Linked DNA regions of Homo sapiens: region 1 is linked to region 2. Evidence: fine-mapped QTL for protein levels in blood plasma. Region 2 holds a variant in brackets. A gene starts in the other region. All regions are shown on their forward strands.

Evidence for each region. PIP is the posterior inclusion probability: the model's chance that the variant is causal. Protein levels are from antibody-based Olink assays in UK Biobank. Linkage for the fine-mapping came from a reference panel and not from the study's own genotypes, which makes the PIPs less certain.
Region 1: AZU1 starts here. The variant in region 2 is fine-mapped to the plasma level of the AZU1 protein (UK Biobank, PIP 0.99).

Annotation. Positions count from the first base shown.
Region 1 is chr19:824,064-832,393 of GRCh38, forward strand. AZU1 (azurocidin 1) reads left to right here and starts at 3,774. Exons shown (of 5, transcript NM_001700.5): 1 at 3,774-3,841; 2 at 4,167-4,323; 3 at 5,499-5,643; 4 at 6,645-6,878; 5 at 7,653-7,955. The coding sequence starts at 3,784. The coding sequence ends at 7,814.
Region 2 is chr8:6,965,112-6,973,441 of GRCh38, forward strand. It overlaps the pseudogene DEFA10P. Among named protein-coding and RNA genes, the nearest start is that of DEFA1, 11 kb to the right of the region's middle. RefSeq lists enhancers at 6,083-6,583, 6,584-7,084. The variant C/G (reference allele first, on the strand shown) is at 3,888.

The DNA of each region.
Region 1 (8,330 bases), not on the chromosome of region 2:
GCCTGGCCATGGAGGGCACGTTGCTTGGCTGAGGGGCCTGGGCTTGAGTGTGGGGCCTGGGCTTGAGTGATGGGAGAGTTCCGAGCAGGCCGGAGGGGTTGAGCGTACCAGACGCTGCTCAAAACTTTTATTTAAAAATGATTATTATTATTATTACTATTATTTTGAGATGGACTCTTGCTCTGTCGCCCAGGCTGGAGTGCAATCGTGCGATTTCAGCTCACTGCAACCTCCCACCTCCTGGGTTCAAGTGATTCTCCCTCCTCAGCCTCCCGAGTAGTTGGGATTATAGGCGCCTGCCACCACGACGGGCTAATTTTTGTATTTTTAGTAGAAAGAGGATCTCCCCATGTTGGTCAGGCTGGTGTTGATCTCCTGACCTCAGCTGATCTGCTGCCTCAGCCTCCCAAAGTACTGGGATGACAGGGGAGCCACGGAGCCCAGCCTTTTTTTTTTTTTTTGGGAGACGGAGTTGCACTCTGTCGTCTAGGCTGGAGTGCAGTGGCGCGATCTCGGCTCACTGCAAGCTCCACCTCCCGGGTTCACGCCATTCTCCTGCCTCAGCCTCCCGAGTAGCTGGGACCGCAGGCGCCCAGGACTATGCCCGGGTAATTCTTTTGTATTTTTAGTAGAGACGGTGTTTCACCGTGTTAGCCAGGATGGTCTTGATCTCCTGACCTCGTGATCCGCCCGTCTTGGCCTCCCAAAGTGCTGGGATTACAGGCGTGAGCCACCGCGCCCAGCTTTTTTTTTTTTTTTTTAATAGAGAGAGGGTCTCACCATGTTGCCAAGGCTGGTCTCAAACTCCTGGGCTCAAGTGATCCTCCCACCTCGGCCTCCCAAGGCACTGGGATTACAGGCGTGAGCCACCACGCCCGGCCTCAAAAACTTTTCAGAATATGAACCCCACTCCATGCTCAGCACTGTTCTGTCTAGAAGGCAGAGTCTATCCCTGTCTCAGGGCACACTGACGTGCAGACAGCGAGCTCGCCCTGAGGTCATGCGACTGGGAGGGACAGAGCTTCCGGCTCCCGGCAGAGGGGAAATGGGGCCTGGCCCACGGGAGAGCTGAGGCCCACGTTTGGCCAGGACAGGGTGGATGGAGGCTGGGGCCTCCGCAGGGAAGATGGACAGGTAGGATCCGGGGTGGGCAGAGAGGGAGAGCTGGCTTGGACGGAGGCAGGGATCTGGGGGCTGTGCCATGGACCCTGTGAGGTGGCTGGGCTGTGAAACTCAGTGGAGACCGGAATTATTATTATTATTATTATTTTTTTGAGATGGAGTCTCACTGTCTCCCGGGCTGGAGTGCAGTGGCACGATCTCGGCTCACTGCAAGCTCCGCCTCCTGGGTTCACGCCATTCTCCTGCCTCAGCCTCCTGAGTAGCTGGGACTACAGGCGCCCACCACCACGCCCGGCTAATTTTTTGTATCTTTAGTAGAGATGGGGTTTCACCGTGTTAGCCAGGAAGGTCTTGATCTCCTGACCTCATGATCCGCCCGCCTCGGCCTCCCAAAGTGCTGAGATTACAGGTGTGAGCCACCGCTCCCGGCCTGGAGACCAGATTTGAGCCCTGGGACCCTACATTCCCGATGGGCAGCGGACCTCAAGGCACACCGGCCCCGCCTCCCTGGACTCTCCCCGTATCCGCCCCTTGGAGGGGCAAACTGCCCTCAGAGGGCTCCCACAGGCCCAGACACAAACTGGTGTCCCCAAGGGTGTGGGGGACACGGTAAGCTCCAGACCTCAGTTTCACCTTGGAAATGAGCCCCTTTGTAAAAAATGGAGGTGAGTTTGGACGCAGTAGCTCACACCTGTGCTCCCAGCACTTTGGGAGGCCGAGGCAGGTGGATTGCTTGAGCTTAGGAGTTTCAAACCAGCCCGAGCAACATAGTGAGACTCCACCTCTACAAAAAAATACAAAAATTAGCCGGGCATGGTGGCATGTGCCTATGGTCCCAGCTACCTGGGAGGCTGAGGCAGGAGGATTGCTGGAACCCGGGAATCGGAGGCTGCAGCGAGCTGAGATCGTGCCACTGCACTCCACCCTGGGCAACATAGTGAGATCCCATCTCTACAAAATATACAAAAATTAGCCGGGCACGGTGGCGGGTGCCTGTGGTCCCAGCTACTCGGGAGGCTGAGGCAGGAGGATCAGTTGAACCCAGGAGATTGAGGCTGCAGTGAGCTGAGATGGTGCCGCTGCCCTCCAGCCTGGGCAACAGCGAGACCTCAACTCTGAAAAAAACAAAAGAAGGAGATGAAATTTACATAACTTAAAATTAGCCATTTTGAACGGTACAGTGAAGTGGTTTTCGGTGCATTCACCGACTTGTGCAACCATCACTGCTGTCCAGTCCCAGAACATTCCATCACCCCAAAGAAGGAAGCCCCATCTCCATCCATCAGCCATCACCCCCTGCCCTCCCCCGGCCCCTGGCAACCACAGATCCACTTCCTGCCTCTGCAGATTTGCTTGTTCTGGACATTTCGTCTATTTATTTTTATATAGTTTTTAATTTGTTTTTATTTATTTTTTTTGAGACGGAGTCTCTCTGTGTCACCCAGGCTGGAGTGCAGTGGCGCAATCTCGGCTCACTGCAACCTCCACCTCCCAGGTTCAAGCGATTATCCTGTCTCAGCTTCCCAAGTAGCTGGGACTATAGGCGCCCGCCACCACGCCCAGCTAATTTCTTTTTTTTTTTTGAAATGGAGTTTTGCTCTTGTCGCCCAGGCTGGAGTGCAATGGTGCGATCTCGGCTCGCTGCAACCTCCGCCTCCCAGGTTCAAGTGATTCTCCTGCCTCAGCCTCCTGAGTAGCTGGGATTACAGGCATGTGCCACCACGCCCAGTTAATTTTGTATTTTTAGTAGAGATGGGGTTTCTCCATGTTGGTCAGGCTGGTCTTGAACGCCCAACCTCAGGTGATCTGCCTGCCTCGGCCTCCCAGAGTGCTAGGATTACAGGTGTGAGCCACCGCACCCAGCTTGTCAATTATATCTCAATAAAGCTGTTGAAAAAGTTTAAAAAAATCACCCAATCGGGCACAGTGTTTCACACCTGTAATCCCAGCATTTTGGGAGGCCGAGGTGGGTGGATCACCTGAGGTCGGGAGTTTGAGACCAGCCTGGCCAATATAGTGAAACCCCATCTCTACTAAAAATACAAAAAATTAGCCAGGCGTGGTGGTGGACAACTGTAATCCTAGCTACTCAGGAGGCTGAGACAGGAGAATCACTTGAGCCTGGGAGGCGGAGGTTGCAGTGAGTCGAGATCACACCATTGCACTCCAGCCTGGGCAACAAGAGCGAAACTCCGTCTCAAAATAATAATAATAATAATAATAATAATAATCACCCATACAGACGCGCAGGACTCAACGCAGGACTGCCAGCTCCACTGCCCTGAGCCCCCCGGTGCCAGGCCCAGCGGGCAGTGCTGGAGCCCCAGTGGCTTGGGATGGGGAGACTGGGACTCTGAGCTGGCAATGTTCCTGGGTGCTGGCTGCATGCCCGCCATGTGCTGGGCTCCGGGATCCACTGGTTCCTGACACCCTCACCTGCCCCTGGGGGTGTGGCCATCTTCTAGAGAGGGAAACTGAGGATCAGTGCAGAATGTAGGGGGAGCCCAGGCTGGCCCAGGGAGCAGTTGGCGGTGGAGGCCTTGGGCAATTTCCCGTGTTCCCACTGAGTGGGGCTGTCCCTGGGCCTGGGCGGGGACGCCACCAACTGCCAAGGCCTGTGTATAAGGGCAGCCGCCGCCTTAGCCACAGACCTGCCCCGCCATGACCCGGCTGACAGTCCTGGCCCTGCTGGCTGGTCTGCTGGCGTCCTCGAGGGCCGGTGAGTGCCTCTCTGTGCCGGTGGTCCCCCATCTGTGCTAGGGCCCGGCTGCCAGGGCAGAACTCAGACTTAAAGCACAGAGAAGGCAAGCGGCTTGGCCTGGGTCACACAGCCAGCCCGGCCTGGACGATCCCGCGAAAGGCGTGAGGGCGGACGGTGTGCGGGACTCAGGGGCCCCCTGTCCTCTTAGGGAGTGGGACGATGGGGGAGGGTGGGTCCCCCCGCAGCCCCACTGGGTGGATAGAGCTGAGGCTGCAGCTTCACACGCCCTCCCGGCCACTGTGTGGATTCTTGGGGATCTCAGAGCTGTCTCCCCCCGACCCAGGCTCCAGCCCCCTTTTGGACATCGTTGGCGGCCGGAAGGCGAGGCCCCGCCAGTTCCCGTTCCTGGCCTCCATTCAGAATCAAGGCAGGCACTTCTGCGGGGGTGCCCTGATCCATGCCCGCTTCGTGATGACCGCGGCCAGCTGCTTCCAAAGCCAGTGAGGGGTCCTGGGGAGGGGGCCTAGGGGGCATTGGGGCTCAGAGAAGGGGCTTGGGGGGCTTAGGCATTCAGTGGGGGTGCTTGGTAGGTGAGGAGGGGAGGGGATTGCAAAAGGAGGGGCTCAGGGAAAGGAGGGGGCTTGGAGAGGGAAATGGGGACTGAGTTGAGGAGGGACCCAAGGATATTGGGGGGCTCAGATGGAGGAGGCCCAGAGAAGGGAAGGGGGTCAGATGGAGGAGGCCCAGAGAAAGGAAGAGGCTCAGATGGAGGAGGTGCAGTGAAGGAAAGGGGGTCAGATGGGGGAGGCCCAGAGAAGGGAAGGGGCTCAGATGGAGGAGGGGGCCCAGAGAAAGGAAGGGGCTCAGATGGAGGAGGTGCAGAGAAGGGAAGGGGGTCAGATGGGGGAGGCCCAGAGAAGGGAAGGGGCTCAGATGGAGGAGGTGCAGAGAAGGGAAGGGGCTCAGATGGAGGAGGTGCAGAGAAGAGAAGGGCCTCAGATGGAGGAGGTGCAGAGAAGGGAAGGGCCTCAGATGGAGGAGGTGCGGAGAAGGGAAGGGGGTCAGATGGAGGAGGTGCAGAGAAGGGAAGGGGGTCAGATGGGGGAGGCCCAGGGAAGGGAAGGGGCTCAGATGGAGGAGGGGCAGAGAAGGGAAGGGGGTCAGATGGGGGAGGCCCAGGGAAGGGAAGGGGCTCAGATGGGGGAGGCGCAGAGAAGGGAAGGGGGTCAGATGGAGGAGGTGCAGAGAAGGGAAGGGGGTCAGATGGGGGAGGCCCAGATAAGGGAATGGGGTCAGATGGGGGAGGTGCAGAGAAGGGAAGGGGGTCAGATGGGGGAGGCCCAGATAAGGGAAGGGGCTCAGATGGAGGAGGTGCAGAGAAGGGGAGGGGGTCAGATGGAGGAGGCTCAGAGAAGGGAAGGGACTCAGATGGAGGAGGGGGCGCAGAGAAGAGAAGGGGCTCAGATGGAGGAGGAGGCGCAGAGAAGGGAAGGGGCTCAAGATGGGAAGGGGGCCCTGGAAAGTCTCGGCTCTGCTTCTGTAAAAGCGGGGGAGTTTTCAGGGTGAAGGATTGCAGTCTGCAGGCTGGGATCCCCCCTAATTTGCAAGCCGGCTTGCTCTGTGCCCAGGCCCCAGCCTGGTGTCCTCCCTCTGCCCTTTCCTCCGCTACTCTCAGGAACCCCGGGGTTAGCACCGTGGTGCTGGGTGCCTATGACCTGAGGCGGCGGGAGAGGCAGTCCCGCCAGACGTTTTCCATCAGCAGCATGAGCGAGAATGGCTACGACCCCCAGCAGAACCTGAACGACCTGATGCTGCTTCAGGTGAGAGGATGGTGCCACCTGTGATCCCAGCACCTCGGGAGGCCGACGTTAGCCAGGGAAACAAGTCCAAACTTGGTCTCTACAAAAAAATACAAAAATTAGCCGGGAGTGGTGGCGCGCACCTGTGGCCCCTGTGCTTCAGGAGGCCGAGGCGGAAGGACGGCTTGAGGTCAGGAGTTCGAGACCAGCCTGGGCAACATGGCCAAACTCAGTCTCTACAAAAATATATATGTGTGTGTGTGTGTGTGTGTGTGTGTGTGTGTGTGTGTATCTTGCCGGGTGAGGTGGCTCATGCCTGTAATCCCAGCATTTTGGGAGGCCGAGGTGGGCGGATCACGAGGTCAGGAGATTGAGACCAGCCTGGCCAACATGGTGAAACCCCATCTCTACTAAAAATACAAAAATTAGCCAGGCATGGCAGCGGGCGCCTCTAGTCCCAGCTACTCAGGAGGCTGAGGCAGGAGAATCGCTTGAACCCGGGAGGCGGAGCTTGCAGTGAGCCGAGATCGCGCCCCTGCACTCCAGCCTGGGTAACAGAGCCAGACCCTATCTCAAAAAAAACTTCCAAAAACAATACAGCAACACATACAGATGTACCACGGTTCGCGTATGGAGCCTCCTGTTGGTGGAGACTGACGTCGTTTTCAAATGCTTTTGCTATGACAGAATCATGTGAATGTTTTTCATGTTTGGTTTTTTTCTTTGAGAAAATGATAAAATTATCTCAAAAATATCATTAAAAAATTTAAAAAAGTAGAGACGGGGGTTTCACCTTGTTGGCCAGTTTGGTCTCGAACTCCTGGCCTCAAGTGATCCACCCACCTTGGCCTCGCAACGTGCTGGGAATACAGGCGTGAGCCACCGCACCCGGCCCCTGCCGGGAATTAAACGCAAACCACTTACAGACTACAGTTAATGTCGCTGACACTTCTGCTCCCAGGGGTCCCCATGAGGCTCCAGTCCCCAGGGCCACCCTCCCCTGACTCCATTTCCTTCCCCAGCTGGACCGTGAGGCCAACCTCACCAGCAGCGTGACGATACTGCCACTGCCTCTGCAGAACGCCACGGTGGAAGCCGGCACCAGATGCCAGGTGGCCGGCTGGGGGAGCCAGCGCAGTGGGGGGCGTCTCTCCCGTTTTCCCAGGTTTGTCAACGTGACTGTGACCCCCGAGGACCAGTGTCGCCCCAACAACGTGTGCACCGGTGTGCTCACCCGCCGCGGTGGCATCTGCAATGTGAGTGCTCCCTGTGGCGGGAGGAGGGGTCCTGAGAGGTACTGAGCTCTCCGTGGCAGGAGAAAGCAAGTGCAGGCTGAGGGCGGCACAGCAGGGGGGCCCCAGGATTGAGCATTTTCACGGTAGGAGAAACAGTATCTTTTTTTTTTTTTTTGAGACAGAGTCTCGCTCTGTCGCCCAGGCTGGAGTGTAGTGGCGTGATCTCGGCGGCTCACTGCAACCTCCGCCTCCTGGGTTCAAGCGATTCTCCTGCCTCAGCCTCCTAAGTAGCTGGGATTACAGGCATGCGCCACCACGCCCGGCTAATTTTGTATTTTTAGTAGAGACAGGGTTTCTCCATGTGGGTCAGGCTGGTCTCGAACTCCTGACCTCATGATCGACCCACCTTGGCCTCCCAAAGTGTTAGGATAACAGGCATGAGCCACCGTGCCTGGCTGAGAAACAGTAGCTATCAAACGCCGGCTGTGAGCCACGTCTGTGCTGGGGGTTGGGGACCCAGCAGGCATGGTAGAGCCGGTCACTGAGGGACTCAGGCGTGTGATTGCCAGGGGAGGGGCACCTGGCCCAGCCTGGAGGTGCCAGGAAGCTCCAGAAAGCAACTGATCCCAAAGTCCACTAGCAGTTAACCAGGGCAGAGAAAGAGAAGAGCCATGCAAAGGCCCTGGGGCTGGATCAGGACTTGTAGGTTCCAGGGGCAGCAAGAGGCCTCTGCAGTTCTGGGGTGGCGTGGGAGCCAGGCCCTGGGACGCCCTGACACAGCTGCTGCCTGCCCAGGGGGACGGGGGCACCCCCCTCGTCTGCGAGGGCCTGGCCCACGGCGTGGCCTCCTTTTCCCTGGGGCCCTGTGGCCGAGGCCCTGACTTCTTCACCCGAGTGGCGCTCTTCCGAGACTGGATCGATGGTGTTCTCAACAACCCGGGACCGGGGCCAGCCTAGGGGGGCCTGTGACCTCCCATGGAGCCCAGCCCCGCCCTCCACACCTCCGGCGCTCCGCACCCACCTCCCACGGCCCCGCCCCTGCCCCCGCTCCGGCCAGAGGGGCCCTGGCTGTAATAAAGAAGCCGATCTCTCCTCTGCTCCTGGTTTCTGTTCATTGGTGGGGGAGGGGGCTGTGGGGACGCGTGAGTGGCACCTTCACCGGCCTTAGGGGCACCCACCGCAGGTGCACTGCCTGTGCAGATGTCAGATGTTCAGAGATTCCCTCAAAGCCCGGGAAGCAGGGGCTGGTGTTATCTGCACCCGACAGCGGGGTGTTGGGGGGAGGCCCAGGTTCAGAGAGGTTGGGTGGCTGCCCAGAGGTCACACAGTGAATGCCGCCCAGCACTTTGGGAGGCCGAGGTGGGCGGATCACCTGAGGTCAGGAGTTCAAGACCAGCCCGGCCAACCTGGTGAAACCCCATCTCTATAAAAATACAAAAATTAGCCGGGCATGATGGCGGGCGCCTGTAATCC
Region 2 (8,330 bases):
GGACCCTATTGTGAACTGTGCACTCGAGGGATCTAGGCTGTGTGCTCCTTATCAGAATCTAACTAATGCCTGATGATACGAGGTAGAATAGTTTCATCCAGAAACAATCCCTCAGCCCCCCCACCCATGGAAAAATTGTCTTACAACTGTCATTGGTGCCAAAAAACGTGTCCCCAGTAAGTGCCTAACTAAAGTCAAGTGACACTGTGGAGCAGTAGAGGCTTCATGTCCTTCTTGAAGCAGGACAGGACTGGGGCAAGGAGAGAGGTGAGAGATTAAGTTCCAAGTGTGGAGAACAGTGTGTAGAGGAAATGTATGAAGACGTTCAGTAGGACGCTGTGTAGACTGTGCTCACTGAAGGAAGGTTGTAAACATGGGGAATGGCAAGTGAGTTTAGACTGGAAATTGTGGATGAGAAGATTCCTGGAGATTTTCTAGACACAGCTTCACATCTTAAGGATGAGGGCTTAAGAATAGAAGGGGGTGAGTGGAAATGAAACTGCCAAGCACACTTTTCTTTGTGCTTCCATGCCCTGTAGGGATTCAGAGCCTCACAGGGGAAGCCCTACAATGAGACAGGGATGCTATGTCTTGGGATAATCACATTGTGAAAACATGGCCCACCTCTGACTTATTCTTTATCGTTCGATCACATGAGTGGATTCTTTAAAATGCCTAGTAGGTCTTCAGTGTACATACAGAGTTTGTGTTTTCAATAATCATTTCGTGGTCTTATTTGAGGCTGCGAAAATTACCCTGGTTGTCTGGAGACCCTCACATCTCTCCCTGCATTCTCCGTCCCTAGAGTTTGCTGCTTTCATTGGCCACCCTGGACTGCAGTAGCAGAAGCCACATGTGGTGCCCCAGTTGAGGACGATGGGATGCTCCGTCCTCATCTGCCCCCTTCCCTTGGATTGATGGATACTTCTCACCATGTCGGCCGGAATTCTGCTCTACTCTTCTCTGTTGCAAAAGCAATTCCTCTAAATTCACTGGAGGTCTATCTGACCCTTCATACTTCTTGTCCCAATGCCATTTTCTTTACCTAGAATACTGCTCTACCTCTTCTTTTTAATGTATTGAATTTTTCAATATCTTGTATGTTTCAGTTAAAGATATATCATAAACTCTTGTCTTGCCACTACAGGCCAAAATGGCTAGTTCTTCATTAGAAGGTAGTGATGCTTCACAAAGCCATTTTCTACTCATGATATTCTCCTGTTGGTTTAAATGATTTTTATTGATTTTTAAAGCAATGCTGTCACATGGACTAGGCACATGGGTGCTTTATCCCCATAGGTGTCAGGTTTATTCTACGAAGTTTTGTAATAACAATGTAATTTTGTAATAATATGTGATGTTAGATATGACTAATTAATGTAATCATAATGAATTTGCTGATCCTCTACTATTTATTAGGGAGTCGTCTGTGTACTGTGGCCCAACAATGAGTAAAACTTGCAGCTCACCTTCTAGAGTAGGGAGGCAAACATTACAGAAAGCAGGTGAAATGTACAGAATGTAAGATGGTGTGAAACTCTACAGTTTAAAATAAGAGAAGAAGGGGATTGAGGTTTCCAGGGGGAACTAGTTGCAATTTAAAATTGAGAAATCAGCAAAGCCCTCAGTGACAAAGGGAAGTTTTAGCAGAGACTCCAGGATCTGGGGTGCAAGAAAGGTGGACTTCTGGGTGAAGTGCAAAAGCCGTGTGAGGGAGTCAGCCCAGCCCAGCGGACAGTTAGGAGCAGTATGCAGAGTTAAAGCAAGCACCATGTGACTTCAAGTCAGTGGCAGTTATAGGAACCCAAGGAATGTTGTCTGGCCATTGCATTCTCAATCTTAATGTGTGTCCTTCCTTCTCTAAAGAAGAGGTAGAGCTGGGACCATTTATGTGTCAGTCATAGGCTCATCTATAGTCCCTAAGATCTGTATTGAGTTCCCCAGCCATGCAGCATCTCAGTGGGGTGCCTGGATCCCTGAGCTGCCACTTCAGACAGGCAGAGCCTCAGTCTGGGGCCGAGACCTGCTCAGAATCTGCATGAGGTGGACGTGGGGAATGCCTACTCCTTCCTCCTGGGGTCTGGGCATTTGTGGTTGGTGTTGGTGGCTTCCCCATCCATGCAGTGTCTCAGTGGGGTGCCTGGACCTCTGAGCTGCCTCAGCACCCTGCAACAACAAGAAGGCTACGATTTTCCCGGTGAAATGCTTTCCCTCCCTCATCACTTATCCCCTATGAAGCTGTATTTTCCAGGCAGATTCAGTTCTCAGAAGCTTTAAGGCAACACAAGAGAGTGCCTGTTGCAAAGTGCAGTGGAGCATTTGTGTGTGTGCATTTTCTGGGTGTGAAGAAGAGTTTATGGATGTGAAATCCAGGTCTTAGTAGACATGGCTGGAGGGTGCTCTTAATGAGGACATGCCAGTGTAAGCTGCTGTGCTTTCTGTTCCATGCATCCCACCTTTGCTAACAACACATTTCCCTCTTACAGAAAGTTTTTTCCGTGGATCTCATGTAACCCTATGTCTTAAAAGGAAAATGTACAATCTGACATTGTTCAATGAAACTCCAATTCTTTAGCACAGAGGATGGTGGTTTTCCCGGAGAAGTAATGATTTTGTGACTGCATGAACTTTAAGCTGACACCGATTGTTTGCCCAGTACACGGGAGGGAGCTCTTTGAGTGGATCCAGAGAAAATGAGACAGAGTGAAAAGACAGAGCAGTGGATGGGGAGATTGGTGGTGTCATATGGGCCTTCTTTTCAATTAGAGTCTGAAGCCAAAACTCCTGCTTGAAATTCCTAGAATTTGGAATTTTGTTTTGTTTAAAAACTTAGGATTCTGGTAGGTGCATGCCAAGTGTCTTGAGACACAAAGACACATCAAATGTGAAAGAGATGTAAAGACAGAAATCTTGCGATAAGGTATTTATTTAGGATGAGAAAATGAAATTAAGGACAAGGTACAGGAATAACAAGAATTTCTTTTACTCTCAAAGTAAATAATGAGCTTATTTTTCTTGATTCTGCAAGCTCAGCAGCAGCAGATCCGGTATAATCTACCAGGAAGGGCACAGGACCCAAAGCGACGTTGAAAGAAATGGCAAATTCCTCGTCTGCAAATGCACCTCAAGCCTCTCCCTGAGCCTGGGGACACAGGGACAGCATCAGAAATGGATCACCAAGGTCAACAGTGGGTTGTAAAGGGAATCTTGGAGAAGTCACGTGCCAGCTGATGAGTGATGTTGTCTGCATTAGGGCCGGTAGCATGAACAACCTCAGTCAATAGGAATAAATACACAGAGCAGTGCTGGTCACACAGGATTTGAGACTCATTCTCATTTGCTCTCATTTTTGTGCTTCTGCCCCATCACACACACACCTGAACACACTCTTAGGCTTGGCTCTACTTTTAAAAAACCATTCTATAGATACAGTAAAATATTCTCCTTATAATGAAATCTACTTGTTTAGATCCAGAAAGAAGTAGTCAGACTGTCTCTTCATATCTTAAACCTACTGAGTTTCACAGGCATATCTTGGAATCAAGTCTTTCCTTTTTATTTATTTTTTCTAAAGTGAAAGGATTATTAAGAAAGTAAAAGAGTAAAATAATGGCTGCTCTCCATGCAGAGCAGCCTTAAGTCTTTAAAGACAGAAAACCTGTTAGATTTATTGGGCTCTCTCTTCAATTTATAGATGAGAATACCAAGGACCAGAGATGCTAAATGAAGCCACCTAAGTGACATGGACCATTGAGACTCGATTCCAGACTCTCTCTCCCGTCCAACCCTCTAGACTGTGCAGCTCTCTGCATGCCGGCCTGTCTCACCTGAAAGTGGAAGTGCAGCGCTTTCATCCCATGTAAAGGAAACAGACACTTCCTGATCAT[C/G]TGCTCCAGGCTACTCCTGGGCTGCAGCTTCATCAGCTCTTGCCCGAAGTGGCTCCGCCTGAGCCTGCAGGGCCACAAAGAGAACGGTGGCAGTGAGGAGGGCAAGGGTCCTCATGGCTACAGAGACTTGGAGGAGGGAGAGCAGGAGCAGATGTGTGGGGAGAGAGGAGTTAGCCTGGGTTTATAGGTCTGCAGAGAGAAGGCTCAGAGACCAGAAACTTTGAAACTTCTCAGTGAGAGGAGGTGTGCATTTCATCGGGGATTGTGTGGGATCCCTTTGGTCTCAGTGTCCCTCTTTTCCTCCTTTGATCTCTCAGCTTTTATTGTAGTGTGAATCTCTATTCACACTAGAAAGTGTGAGTAGATGGATCAGGTGTTTGGAGAAGATGGTGAAGATGAGGATCCTGGCATGTTTTTCCTGTTTCTCACTTCATTCCATATTTACTTTTTAATAACCAAAAGATAACAGCAGTGCTTTTGTTCAGTAAGTTCAGGGAGCAAATGTGTCATTTTCTGCAGATGGCCCCACTACTTCCTGGAGGTCTACACTCTGGCAGCAGGCATAAATTCCTATCAAGTGAAGAGTCATTTGTTGCAGGCATCAAGGGCGTGACCACCCTCATGAAGTCATGGGGTTAGTAGTCTCTTGTAGGAGCCAGTGTGAAGAGGACCATGACCCTATCACGTGATAGGTGAAATGAACACAGTGACATCGAGGTAAAAAGTTCATCTACATCCAAAAGAAATTTTTCCAGCTCTACTGAGATATGAATAAGAATTAAAAATGGTACAGATCTACTGTATACTGCGTTAGGATTTGATGTTCATATACATGTGGTTTTTTATCATATACTAGGTACACAAATCAACTCAAAATGTTTTGAAGACCCAAACATAGACCTGAAACCATAAAATGATGAGAGGAACATATGAAGATAATGCTTTGACGTTGATGTTGGTAATGATATCTTTGCTATGGCAGCAAAGACACAGGCAATGAAAAGAAAAATAGACAAGTGGGGCTGCATTGAACATTAAAGCATCTGAATGGCAAAAATCAAAAAGACAAACAACTGAGTGAAAAAGTGACCCAGAACATGAGAGAAAATATTTGCAAACCCTAAGTGGTAGAAGGGGTAAATATCCAAATACATAAGTAAGTCAAACAACTCAATAGCAAATAACAAATAACCTGATTGAAAAACAGGCCAAGGAGCAGGATAGGCTCCTCTCAAAATAAAATAATGTTTCAAGGCGCTACTATTGTCTCTGTTAGACACGTCAAGTAGGACACGCGTATTTCGAAGGAAATTTCCTGAGTTTCTCTATTAACTTAGCTGGTAGCCAATGCCCCAGGCAACCACCAGAGGTTCAGAGAGAAATGCACAGCAGGGGATTCACCCACTAGGTCCCTCTGGGGTGGTCCAGGAGTCACAGGTCAGACTGGGGGCACAGGCTCAATGTTGAAACCTCAATGTGAGAGTTTAAGGTCTGTGTTAATTACAGCTCCTGAAGTTAGGCAGAGTGACCAGAGAGGGCAGACAGCAGTCCTCTGTCCCTGGTCTCCTGTAGCAAGAGCAGCCGTGCACAAACAGGAGGGGACTTCCCTATTTAAGGGTGATTTGGGATCAGGTATCCTAATATCCTGGGTTACTTTCTGTTGGGTACATTAAATAACTCTGGTGGCAAGGGCAGTTGAGAAATTTGGAGGGACGCTGTGGTGTAGACATGAGTCCACAGAGAACCCCGCATCTAACTCGGTCAGCCCTGGCCAGGCCCAGGCAGCAACCAATGATAGATTCCATGACTCCTAAGACAATGGACCCCGAGATGCCTGTGCTGATGGCTCAGGCTGAGGTAATTGCACCCAGGGAATACTTAAAGCCCCCAGGAGAGCCTGGCCTGCATATCACAGGATACACTCTGTTAGGGAGACAAGTTACGACAGACACCCATGCACAGGAGAGGATGAGGAATCTTGCCTGAACCAGCCTCCCAAGTACCTGTGCTCTAACCGTAACAACACATCAAAGCCGATTGGCTGGGTTGGGATGTTGCAGACCACCTGGTTGAGACTGAATCCCACGTCGGCTTGTGTTACCAGGCAGGGCAGGTTTTGTTGGGTTTGTTAAGGATGTGCACACAGCATGTGGTTCCCGGGAGCGGACAATTGCCTCGTTGCTTGGGCAATGGACAGTTTAAGGCTAAACGAGTGTCTAGGACCACTGGCGCCAAGGACTCCTGAGTTTCCTGCTTGAGATCTAATGTCTTTTGGAAGTCTCTCAGGGAGGCGGCCAAGGTGGAAGCAAGATGGGTGTTAGCTTACATCACCTGGTGCTGTGTTCTCAAATACCTTGCTCTTAAGTCAATTCTGGGCAGGCTTAAGAGCCTCCATACACACGGCGTGAGTGGGAAGATCACTGGTCACTCGAGATATGCAGGATTGAGCTCCTGTGGTCCCTCCTGTGTTATTTCAGGAGAAGTCCTAGGAAAACTAGAGCACATTTTAAAATGTACCACTATCCACCCTCCTCCTCCTTCTCATAGTGAGGTAGATGTGATAAGGTTTCTGGAAATGAGAAAAGAAAGCAGTCACTCGAGAGGCAGTAAATACCTATGGTGAGGTTGCTGAACCCAGTGTACAGGCCAGACAGCCCCTGCTGCCATGGGAAGGTCATGCACAGCGCTGGTCCCACAGGCTGGGTGCTCAGGGCCTCCCCTGCAGCTCTGTGTGCAGGCAGCAGGCATCGGCCGGTGGAGGCCTGGGGGCAGTGGAGTGAGAACTAAAGCATCTCCCTCAACCTTAAGGTAGAGGAGGCATCTCAAGCCTTGCTAGGGGCGGTCACTGTGGCAGAGCAGTGGGGTCTCCTGTCCCTCTGAGGAAGCAGTGAATTCCTGATGTGTGGCAGGCCCAGGAACTTCAGCTTTGGAGGAAGTGAGCACCAGTCTCACCCCAGCATAAGAAGAAATTTGGGCTCTTTGGGGAAACTGAGGCTCTGGTGACAGTTTTAGCTTCCAGGGCATTAGTAGGTGCCTGTAGGGTCGCAATGATGAGGTTATAGGGACTAAATATGAAGGGGTGTATATGAGCGAGAGGAAGATCTCTGGGTTCTGGAAATGTCCCATGTCCTGCGGAAGTGAAACCTGGACCTGCTTCCTGCACACAGAGCACACTCCAGTCCACAGGCATTTCCGCAGCACTGCATGAGCGTTATCACTGGAGAGCTGGTGAGATTCGGGCGTGGTATTCTTACACACAGTTCTCCCAAGTCCATAGTTTTCCGTAGCTTGTAGGGCAGCTTTACAATCTCACTGAGGCTCTATGGGTTCCTTGCACCATAAAGTAATGGGCTTATTCTGAAAGCAAATGGTGATCTCAGCAAAATTCCACTCTAATGAGGTCATTTTTGGGGTAATCAGCAAAGCATGAGGTCAGGGAAGCAGCAAGTCAAGGGTTTGGGTACTGGCCATGAGCCAGCACCGTGTACTGGAGATGGCAAGGTCCGTGTTTGTAGCAGTAAGGAAAGGCTGGTTGGTGGTGATCTCGTGGTCAAAGTGATTTTCCTCTACAAGGGACTTAAACAAATAAGTAAGCAAAAAAGAAATGACCCCTTTAAAATGCGTGCCAGGGCATGAACAGATACTTCTCAAAAAAAAGACATACAAGAGGCCAAGAAACATGAAAAAATGCTCCACATTACTGATCATTAGAGAAATGCAAAATAAAACCTCAAAGGGATACCAGCTCACACTAGTCAGAATGGCTGTTATTGAAAAGTTAAAAAATACTGATATTGGCAAGACTGCAGAGAAAGAGAACGCTTATACACTGTTGAGGGGAATGTTAATGAGTTCAGCCATAGTGGAAAGCAGTTTAGAGATTTCGCAAATAACTTAAAATAGAACCAGCATTCAACCAAGGAATCTCACTACTGGGTATATATCCAAAGGAAAACAAATTATTCTGCCAAAAAGACACATGTACTCGTATGTTCATGGCAGCATCATTCATGCTAACAAAGACATGGAGTCAACCTAGATGGCCATCAGTGTTGGACTGGATGAAGAAAATGTGGTACATATACATGATGGGATACTACATTCATAAAAGAGAATGAAATTATGTCATCTGCAGCGAGTTGGATTCAGTGAGAAGGTGCCGTCTATGAATCACAAAACTGGTCCTCACCAGACACCAAGTGTGTTGGCACCTTGTTTTGGACTTCTCAGCCTCGAGAACACCAAGACATATATTTCTGTTGTTTCTAAGTCACTTGGTGTATGGTATTTTTTTCCAGCACTCCACATACACTCAGATTGCTTGTGTCTTTGAAGCCCGGATACCATGCTTGGAGGAAGTCTAAGTGTTGCAAATCCTGCTAGCTATGAGTGGGATACAAAGTGTCACACCAATCTCCTCCTTCATGAACCGGCATGATCTGA